3 linked regions of the Homo sapiens genome follow. The protein of the gene in region 3 purifies or fractionates together with the protein of the main gene of each other region. This does not show direct contact. Each region holds a gene or a part of one and is shown on either strand. Other genes may lie near its edges. The genes, in order: TRMT2B, XPNPEP1 and VWC2L.

Evidence for each region.
Region 1: the proteins of VWC2L (region 3) and TRMT2B purify together in Homo sapiens (affinity purification with mass spectrometry; one large-scale study listed by BioGRID and IntAct). This does not show direct contact.
Region 2: the proteins of VWC2L (region 3) and XPNPEP1 purify together in Homo sapiens (affinity purification with mass spectrometry; one large-scale study listed by BioGRID and IntAct). This does not show direct contact.

The regions. Positions count from the first base shown.
Region 1 is NC_000023.11:101,045,530-101,049,182, forward strand, and holds part of TRMT2B (tRNA (uracil-5-)-methyltransferase homolog B), read right to left. Parts: intron 1-3,653. UniProt on the Homo sapiens protein: Mitochondrial S-adenosyl-L-methionine-dependent methyltransferase that catalyzes the formation of 5-methyl-uridine in tRNAs and 12S rRNA. Catalyzes the methylation of uridine at position 54 (m5U54) in all tRNAs.
Region 2 is NC_000010.11:109,885,502-109,889,154, forward strand, and holds part of XPNPEP1 (xaa-Pro aminopeptidase 1), read right to left. Parts: intron 3,095-3,653; coding exon 3,002-3,094; intron 2,692-3,001; coding exon 2,548-2,691; intron 841-2,547; coding exon 745-840; intron 1-744. UniProt on the Homo sapiens protein: Metalloaminopeptidase that catalyzes the removal of a penultimate prolyl residue from the N-termini of peptides, such as Arg-Pro-Pro. Contributes to the degradation of bradykinin.
Region 3 is NC_000002.12:214,414,037-214,417,689, forward strand, and holds part of VWC2L (von Willebrand factor C domain-containing protein 2-like isoform 1 precursor), read left to right. Parts: intron 1-77; 5' UTR 78-157; coding exon 158-547; intron 548-3,653.

The sequences.
Region 1 (3,653 bases), on a different chromosome or scaffold from region 3:
GAGACTGAGGCAGGCAGATCACCTGAGGTCAGGAGTTCGAGACCAGCCTGAGCAACATAGTGAAATCTTGTCTCTACTAAAAATACAAAACAAACAAACAAACAAACAAACAAAAAAAATTAGCTAGGCATGGTGGTGGGCACCTGTAATCCCAGCTACTCAGGAGGCTAAGGCAGGAGAATCACTTGAACCCAGTAGGTAGAGGTTGCAGTGAGCCTAGATAACACCACTGCATTCCAGCCTAGGTGACAGAGTGAGACTCCATCTCAAAAAATAATAATATTAATAATATAACAAAAATTTTAAAAATTAAGAAAATAAAAATAAAAAAAACAGGCCAGGCGCAGTGGCTCACACCTGTAATCCCAGCACTTTGGGAAGCTGAGGGGGCAGATCACTTGAGGTCAGCAGTTCGAGACCAGGCTGGCCAACATGGTGAAACCCCGCCTCTACTAAAAATACAAAAATTAGCCGGGCATGGTGGCATGTACCTGTAGTCCCAGCTACTCGGGAGGCTGAGGCATGAGAATCGCTTCAACCCGGGAGGTGGAGGTTGCAATGAGCTGAGATCACACCACTGCACTCCAGCCTGGGCGATATAGTGAGACTCAGTCTCAAAAAAAAAAAAAAAAAAAATCAATCAATCAATCAAAACAAAATTTTCTTTAAAGTACCTTGAGTAAAGGCAAGAGCAAAAGGCCAATGACTGTATCAGGGAGAAAGGTAATATTTGGAGAGCAAGAAGAGATGCTGGTGTCTCAGAAGGAGAGTCAAGAGAGCCTGGAGGCCTGGAGGCCAAGGCATATACCTCTGAGGAAGATAGTATCACATCCATTAGGTCTGGGACAAAAGAAAGAAGGGAAAGGAGGCAATGGGAAGTGGCAGGCAGTGGGGACATATGAAGGCTTTGAGATTTTAGGAGTACAGATCCTAGTCAGACAGCCAGACCTGTCCTGGGTGGTCCACTGGCCCCACCACTCACTACCTAGGTGGCCGTTGCCAAGTTAATCATTCTCTCTGACATTCCTTTTTTTCACTTGTAAAATGGAGACAATGGTATCTACCTTATATAGTGGTTGTAAGAGTTGAAGATAATTAATAAAAAGTACCTAGGCTGCTGGTCACAGTGGCTCACACCTATAATCTCAGCACTTTGGGAGGCCGAGGCAGGCGGATCACCTGAGGTCAGGAGTTCAAGACCAACCTGACCAACATGGAGAAACCCTGTCTCTACTAAAAATACAAAATTAGCCAGATGTGGTGGCGCATGCCTGTAATCCCACCTACTCAGGAGGCTGAGGCAGGAGAATCGCTTGAACCCGGGAGGTGGAGGTTGCGGTGAGCCGAGATCACGCCATTGCACTCCAGCCTGGGCAACAAGAGCGAAACTCCGTCCCCCCAGCAAAAAAAAGTACTTAGGCCAGGTACAGTGTGGCTCACGCCTATAATCCCAGCACTTTGGGAGGCCAAGAGAAGAGGACTACTTGAGCCCAGGAGTTTGAGACCAGCCTGGACAACACAGTGAGACCCCGTCTCTACAAAAATTAAAATATTAGCCAGGCATGGTGGCATGCGCCTGTAGTCCCAGCTACTCGGGAGGCTGAGGTGGTAGCATCACTTGTGCCCAGGCAGCCATGATCATGCTCCAGCCTGGGTGACAAAGCAAGACCCTGTCTCGAAAAAAAAAAAAAAAAAGTACTTAGCAGAAGATTAGACAGGTATGTTTGTGAAACTCTGAGCAGAGTCCAACACCTGGCAAAATATCTTCAGTAAGCATTACTAGTAACTGTCATGACGTGTTTAAAGACAGTATTTAACTGAGTAGAGGTGGCAACACTGAAAGAGGGGAGTGGGAGAAGGAACAATGGGAGTAACTATGAGACAAAAGCTGGAAGAGCTAACATGGGTGACATTGAGAACACAAGTAGAGGGCCTCCCTTTGCAACACAGGACTCTATGTTATGTCTACATTGCTGTGAAAGCACCTGGTTTTTGTTTGTTTTAAAAATGAGATGGGGTTGGCCGGGCATGGTGGCTCACACCTGTAATCCCAGCACTTTGGGAGGCCAAGGTAGGCGGATCACCTGAGGTCAGGAGTTCGAGACCAGCCTAGCCAACATGGTGAAACCCCGTCTCTACTAAAAATACTAAAATTAGCCGGGCATGGTGGCAGGCACCTGTAATCCCACTACTCGGGAGGCTGAGGCAAGAGAACTGCTTGAACCTGGGAGGCAGAGATTGCAGTAGGCCAAGATTGCAACAGAGCAGAACTGGGCGACAGAGCGAGACTCCATCTTAAAAAAAAAAAACAGAGATGGGGTCTCGCTATGTTTTCCAGGCTGGTCTCAAACTCCTGGACTCAACCAATCCTCCTGTCTCGGCCTCCCAAAGTGCTGGAATTATAGGCATGAGCCACCATGCCCAGCCATAAGCACCTATTTTAAGTACTTGGGACACTTGAATGGACTTGGCCTGACATTCTGTTAACCTGCTGTGAAATTTGTATTTTGCCCTTAAGCTCTACCTTGGATTTCATCCCAATGTTAAGTCATAGCCTAATTCAGAATTTTACATTTATACACATACACACACACACACACACACACACACACACACACACACAGAGAAAATTATTGCTAAATTAACATTCCATGATCAATAAGCAACATGGAGGATGACGACATAGGTGCTGCAATATTTAGCCCATACACCATTTTGTATGATTACAAAGTACTAAAGAAAGTGACTGTCATAGCATGTGACATTTGGGGGATTTCAAATTTTTTACAGAATATACACTTAAGCTGGCCCAGAGTTCAGGTGTTAATGATAGCACTCTCCACTCAACACCCACCCCCATCAAGAAGCAACAAGACAGTACAGTTAAGAACACAGGCTTTGAAGCCATGTTCTTTGTTACCAAAAAAAAAAAAACAGTCTTACTTTGTCGCCCAGGCTGGAGTGCAGTGGCACATTCTTGGCTCACCGCAACCTCCGCTGCCTGTGTCAAGCCATTCTCCTGCCTCAGCCTCCCGCGTAGCTGGGATTACAGGCACCCCCCATTGCACCCAACTAATTTTTGTATTTTTAGTAGAGACGGGGGTCTCATCATGTTGGCCACCCTGGTCTCGAACTCCTGACCTCAAGTGATCCACCTGCCTCAGCATCCCAAAGTGTTGGCATTACAGGCATGAGCCACCACATTCGGCTGGAGCCATGTTCTAATCCCAGCTCTACTTCTCACTAGCTATGCGGTTTTAGGTAAGATATTAATACTTAAGTGCTATGAATCTCAGTGTCACCATCTATACAAATAGGACTGAGAACACCTATCTTTCACAGTTTTGGTGAGAATTAAAAGCATTCAAATATATGACATGTTCAGGACTGTGCTTAAGACAGCCAGTGCTCAACATGTGTCACTGCTCTTTCTTAGGCTCTGATTCAAAGCATATCACTTGGTTTCTTCATGCCTCAACATCTCCAACCTGCAAAACTGACAAGATGTAACAATGCATGCAAGTGCTGTGAGGATGAGTACAGTTTGTGGGAAATTTAAAAAACAACATACACACACATAGACACATAAATTTTCTGACCCTCTACATGAGTGCCTGCTGGAGTGTAGTGAGGTTATGGCCTGTGCTGGACTA
Region 2 (3,653 bases), on a different chromosome or scaffold from region 3:
TCATTAAGTTAATTAGGGATGTAAGTCACTGACACACTTGACAATGTTTTGTGGATGGAAGATGCAGGGACTGAAGAGAGAGGACACTGCAGTAGGGTCTCATTCTCTAGTGAGAAGGCAAAAAGATAAAGCAGTGCCTCTTCTCAGTTGCCCTGGGTCAAATCCACTCAGAAACCAGAAGACAGGACAGGAAGGTTCAACCAGATTCCGTCAGGTTTTAGATGAAAGAAGGTGCTGAACAACTGCATGAAGGTGGGTTAAGGTCCAAAGACTGAGAAACTACTATTACATCAAAGGGCTTGGGGAGGAACTTTTAGTTCCTAGTTTTCTGAGGTAGAAATGCTCCCAGAACATTCTCACTATAAAGACCTTAGGAAACCACAGGACAAGTGTAAAGAAAGAAGGCCTCTCCTATGAGCCCACTTCTACACCTACAGAGGCTGACAGACATAAAATATTTGTAGGAAATGCCCTTCCTCAGAGGTGCCATGGTCCTGAGGGACTGGCCAGAGGTGGGCATCACCCAGCTGTAATACTGCTCTGGACAAGCCTCACTCCCCTCCCCAGCTCCCTGTAATTCTTTCTCCTTCATCCTAGTTGGCATCTCCTATACCCATTTGGTGACGTAGTCTTCTTCTTATTCCCTGGCCACTCAGAAAGTTGAATGGCATGAACACACAGATACCCAGAGACCCAAAGGAGAGATCGGGTAACATGCCCAAACAGCGAAACCAGAGCACTCACACGCAATCTCATCCAAGGCAGTGACCACAAACCACATGACGTTCCTCTCAGCCATTTTCAACCGAAGGTCTGCAACCTTGTCCTTCCAGGAGATGCCTGCAAGAAACAAATGTGCTTTAACTCCAGCCCTGGTCCCAGAAAGCAGTAGGAACCCAGTGAAAGAACCTACCCTAAACATCTTTAATCAGCACCATTTCTTACAGGAGCACGCTACTTAAACAGGCAGGAGGCCTGGATTCAAGCCCTATACAAGAAGTGTCCAAGCCACTTGACTGTCGTGAGCCTTGATTGCCTCACCAGTAAAATTCATTCATTTACGCATCCCACAAATGCCTGTGTAACATCTAGATCTGCCAGGCATAGATACGTGCCAGGCACTCTGCTGGTCACTGTGGTTACAGATCTGAGCCAGACCCAGTCCCTGTCTTCATGGGGCTTACAATATAGAAGGGAAGACAGATAATTAAACCAGCAATTAACACACTACTGTAAATACTGATGCAACAGGGGACACACAGGGACCTATATCAACACACTACCCAGCAAAGGGAACTCACCCAGTCTCAGGGGTCAGGGGAACAGCACCCACCACTTGATGTTCCTGGGGGCTGCAAGACTTGCCTTTCAGTGCTAAGACCTAGGAATTCCCTGTAGTCTGACTCACTGTGATTACCACTTCCAAATCACACTTGCCCTTTCAGACACTGCCAAGGCCTCTCTGTTGCTCTGCAAGATGAAATCGTGGTGCTAGAGGAGCTCACCCCATTGCCACCACAACCACCCTACCAGGGCAGCATTCATAACTCAGGGAACAGCCACCTGTGAGCAGGGTGGGCATCTGTCTTATTCACTCAGCACCTCGCACAGCATCCTGCAGATAGTAGGCACCCAAATGTGTACTGAACAGCAACATTTGCTCTCCCCTCTCCTATAAGCAACAAGTCAGAGCTTCTGCTCTAGTGAAAAAAACTTCAAACCACGCTGATGGAAAATATTTAGCTGACCCTGGGCCACTCACTGGACCCATCCTCCCCATTCCGCAATACCCCTCTGGTGAGGATGTCACACAAGAAAGCAGGCTGGGGCTGCCCCCACACCCAGGGCTGCACTGAAGATCAGTTCGGGAATGCTGTTTAAAACTTGGCCCAGAATCTAGGCTGTCACGCTTTCTTCCCAGGACCCCTCTGGGCAATCTGCCTACATTCCACAGCCATCCCCCATCTACCTCTGTTTCTACAGCAAGACGCCCTCCCCTGCAGCCCCACCTCCAGGCCTCTCTCTCTGCCCCCTCACTGCTTCATAAATCCACACAATGGTTCAGAGAACATGCTGCTTACCCATCACTATCGCACAGGCCAAGGAAACACACCCACACCCCAAAGCCTCTAAAGCAGAAGGTACAAGATGGAGGACAAAGGCCTAGGAAGGTAAATCTACAAATGCTGACATAAGAAGGGAAATGGAACCTAGAAACCTCTATGCTCTATTTCCAATATCAAATACGTTCGAGTGGCAGTTAGCAGCTGAGTGGATAAAAAAAACTCAGTCTTTTCAGCAGCACCCAAAAAGCCACCCAAACGAGCTTTGCGAAAATAACCAAAGCCAAACTAAGTGGCAAGTAGGTGGCAACAGTGGAAACAAACAAAGCTCCTGCTTCTTCAAATATCCCACTGGGGCAGAGTAGGGCAAAATCCTCCTGTCAGCTCCAACTCGACTTGGATTCGGAGGACGAGGCTGGAGACAATAGCAAGAGGTGGGGGGACAATGGCAGGGGCCCTGCTGGGCAGAACCATTGATTCTGACCTGTGTAATCCAGGCCCAGTGTGAGGAGAGGCTTGCAAGGGCGCTCAGGACGGTCTGTCCAGATTTTGTCAACGAGGTTCTCCTTGACAGGAATGAGGTGATGGCCGGCACTTCTCAGAACTTTGGCCATTTTCTTCCAATAATCTGAGGAGACACATTGTGGCCCAGCCATGAGCCGAACGCCCATTGCAGCAGGGCAGGGAGCAGGGCCTTGAAAGTCCAGAACCTTCAGAAAGGTGGTCCTGCCATGGCCCAGAGCTGGGTGTGCAGGATGAGGAACTGTAAAAGCACATCTTCACCACCAGTGGAACTCTTCTCTTCACCCTGACCTCTACTATAAAATCAGTCATGCTGAGCCCCCCAGTGCTCCACACCCCACAAGCAAATGAGGAGAATGGAGGGGAATCTAGAAGCCACTTCCTTACCCAAGCAGAAAGGGACCAAGCTCACTTACCTGTAGGAATGATCAAGGGGTCCACACCAACCCTGGATCCTTCAGGAAGCACACTCACCAGCCAGTCTTCCTGAGTTGGTGTGTCCTTCAGACCTACAGGGGGAAGAAATGATAAGAAACAATTCCCAGTGGGCCCACGCTCATTATCCCACCAGAAAGATACAATTCTCTAACATCATGATAGCAGGGTCTTTATTAAGCAGCTTCTTTAAAGTGGATTGACAGGACTTAGAAAATCTGAACCTCCCTTAATCCTGGAAGGCTACAGAGAGGGAGAAGTGTAAGTTTTTGTGTATGAAAAACATAAGACAAGGGTGAGACAGAAGGGAAAAAAGTATGATTTTTCACTTGACCCCTTGTAAAAATATCTTGGGGATCACTGCCACGTACACACATGGCGTCACCACAAAGATTGTCTCCTCAGCGTTCAGTCACTTCCCCACTACTGGTCACTTGATGAGAATTTGGGCAGTGATTTGGTGAAGTCTGGGAACTGGGAGACTCCCACATATCACATACCAGGTAAGGTGATAACATGCTCCCAGTGCCCGCCCCTCATCTGCAAGGGCAGGGTGGCCAAGAGAAGGCCGCTGCCCCATAACCAGCCTCTGAATAGAGGGCTAAGCACAAGTCTTGGCAGCAAAGAGATCTT
Region 3 (3,653 bases):
TTTAAGAGCGTGGGCTTAAATGAATCTATCTTCACTTTATATATGTCAAATTATTCTTTTTAAATATTTATTTTCAGCCTACCCCTCTTGTATTCCCATGGAAGGAGCTGAGTATATTTAATATTAGGAGCACATCCAGAAGTCTTTGAAGAGGGGGATGGCTCTTCATATTCATGAAGCTTGCATACTTCTGTTGGTCATCCCTGGATTGGTCACCTCTGCTGCTATCAGTCATGAAGACTATCCTGCTGATGAAGGTGACCAGATCTCCAGTAATGACAATCTGATCTTTGATGACTATCGAGGGAAAGGGTGTGTCGATGACAGCGGCTTTGTATACAAGTTGGGAGAACGATTTTTCCCTGGGCATTCCAACTGTCCATGTGTCTGTGCTCTAGATGGACCTGTTTGCGACCAACCAGAATGCCCTAAAATTCACCCAAAGTGTACTAAAGTGGAACACAATGGATGCTGTCCTGAGTGCAAAGAAGTAAAAAACTTCTGTGAATATCACGGGAAAAATTACAAAATCTTGGAGGAATTTAAGGTATGCGTTACCCTCCATATTTATTGAAATATCAACTTTTCATACCACGTGCTTAGTACATTGCTACATTAAAGTCAGAGTTGGAAAAATGTACTTTAAAATTTCCCTTTAAATTATACAATTTGATTCTAATTACCATAAGTAGCACCATGGTCAACAAATGGCCAACTGGTTTGTTGATCATATTTGTTAAGTTGCACAATAACCTTTATTTTTTTTCCCAGAAGTATTTGGGGCATACCTAACACCTTTTATTTTTGCCCTTAAACATTTCTTCTCTGTTATTACAAAATATGTTTTCTGATGGGAACAATTTTGTGTATAGTGTATGTGTCTCCTAAATTAATTTTTTAATTGTGTCAGTTTTGTGTGTTGCTTATTAGCCTGTATTTGAAGTCATTTAACAATATAGTCTAGAATTATTTGTTTATTGTGTGGAAAAGCTACAGAGATATACTTCTTAGCTGTGGTCCTCATATTAAGAAAATGCATTGGGCCTACTTGTGGTCAAGCAAGATCCCCATTCTGTTCTCTGCTCGCTGGATTTTTTGCTTTCAGGATTCCACAGAGAACTGAATTTTTATCACAATCCATGTAAAGAGTAGTAAAAAAGACTGTAATTTTTTTCAGCCTACCTGGTATTTTTTAGTTTTTCTTTTACGCTTGCGTCATATTTTCAAAGTAGCTTAGAGTTCATTTTTATCCCTTATTGAACTTTCTTTTCCCCAATGGCTAGTTTTAATTGGGATATCCTACAAGCCTGATCTGAACCCTGAAGGTATGAATACATGAAAAATGTCCACCTTAAATGTAATGGCAGTTTGTGCCTGGAGTGTCTGTCATACTGATGGCTTTATATAAAATGTTCCCATTTCATCTAACCAAGTTCTGTGATGAGGTGCTCAGAACCTTAGAGGTAAAAGCAGATATAGCTAGTTTTCAGTGTGGGTGTTTATGTATGAGAGAAGACATTTCCATTATTAGCACTGACCCAACTTCTCTCACCACAAGGGTCAAATGGTGCCAGAAATCAGTATGTAGAAAAAAGGTCTCAACTGATCATCATTAGCATAATCTGTGTATTCATAGTTAATTGTATTTAGTTCATTATTAACCTGGAATGAACCAGGTTAGCGGTTCAAGCCAGTTCTGATTTACCCAAGAATACCCAGTCATTGGAACTAGATTCCTTAGGACAAAAGGGAAATTTTAATTGTGACATTCAACTTCCTTAGACATGTTATTCTCGACTTTTGTCTTTCGTGTATTATTTTATTGCACAAAATTAAGAAGTAAAAGCATGAGAGTCTAGTAAAAGTATCATTGTTGACACCAAATAATAGTTGAGAGTAGAGTACATTTATTAATGGTTTTATGATCTCTAAAATATTGTATATATTTTGACATTACCTATTTTTAATGTCATCTTAATGGAAGTAAGTAGAAGTACTCAACACACTTGATTCTAGCAGTCATATCACCCTTTTCTAACCTGCATTTATATCTAGACTAGAATACAAAAGGGTATTGTAGGAACAGCGTTTCATAACTAGCACAAATAAAAACATAAGTTTCTGAGATTTATATAATTTGGTAATCTGTATTTAATAAAGAAAATATTGTCTAACTTAACTCACTATTGAAAATGCTATAGTTTTCCCTCTATTTATTAGATTTTACTACAAAGATAATAACTATGTTACCATGTCAAACAATATAGAGGTATTTAAAGAAAAAGTTAATAATTTCTGTACCCCTTCTCGTTATAACCCTACTATAATCTAATTAATCCCTACTACTTCTTTCCTAATGTATGATCCATTAATATGCACAGCTTTTTCACCTGGCTTTTTGTGTCATAAAATTTTTGATGTGATTTTTAAAATAATAGATATCACTTTTTTTAACAAGAATTTAGAGTCATAAAGAGTTTTAGAGACTATATAGGGCAAATGTGTCAGAATGAGAAACTGAGACCAAAAAAGTATAAATTACTTATCCAAAATTGTCAAGTTATTTATCTTAATTCTAAATGCTGCCATTCTAACATACTATATGATCTCTCAAAGCAGTTTGTCACTAAGGTCAGATAGACTTGGATTCGAATCCCAAATTCATCACTTGGATATAAATTTTTGAATGGAGTTCTTAAACTTTTTGATCCATAGTGGTATTGACCATAAAATAGCCATTGTAATAATCACTTTCCTTAGGAGGAGAGGTTGGAAATTCTTAATAACATATAATTTCTCTGAAGTCACTAACCTTGTGATGACGGGTACACAATAGGTATTAAATAAATGATTGTCCCCTCCTTCTTAACTCTAATATCCAGGGATTTACTCTAAATTCTAAATTCCTCTATGGCTTTGCCTACATTTTATAATGAAAGTTCAACTTTAAAAGACTTTCAAATGAAGAATTCTCATACCTTTTTAAAATGCTCTACTTATCCCTATGAACCATACAACTCTAAGTAAATATTAGCCATAATCTGTCATCTTGATTCTCTTCCAACTCAGCTTGCAAGGAACAAGTCATTAATTATTAAAGATGCATAAAACTTTCATATAATAATGTTGATATGTCAATTAGGGAGGTTGTATTATGAGATAATCTTCACATAAATATATTCATCCAACAAGCATTTATCAGACCGTTCAGTAGATAAGATACTGTAGACGTACTTACAATTGAAAGTAGGATATCTAGAAACCAAAATCTCTGCTCACAAGAAAGACATGATCGATGTGAAGAGAGAAGGGGGAAAAAGCAGGTAAAAGTTAAGTATATGATTATGAAATCCCAATATAACTCCCAAGAGATTGTGATGGCAGAAGCTTATCAAAATAGTATGAGGCTTGGTTAAGCAAGAGATTTGTCTTCAGGATGCTAACCCTATACATCTTGTAGAGCTGCCTGTTCTTCAAGAAGTACTTGAAATTGATCTGGGAAGACTGAAATTCCAAAGACGAAACTGCCAGAGCAAAATCAGAGATTGGGATGAATACAGTCTGCAAAGAGGAGGGAGATGGGTATAATTGGAAGCTAGATATGACTAAAATGCTATCCTAGTAAGAGGCAAATTCAGATATGTGTCGGTGGA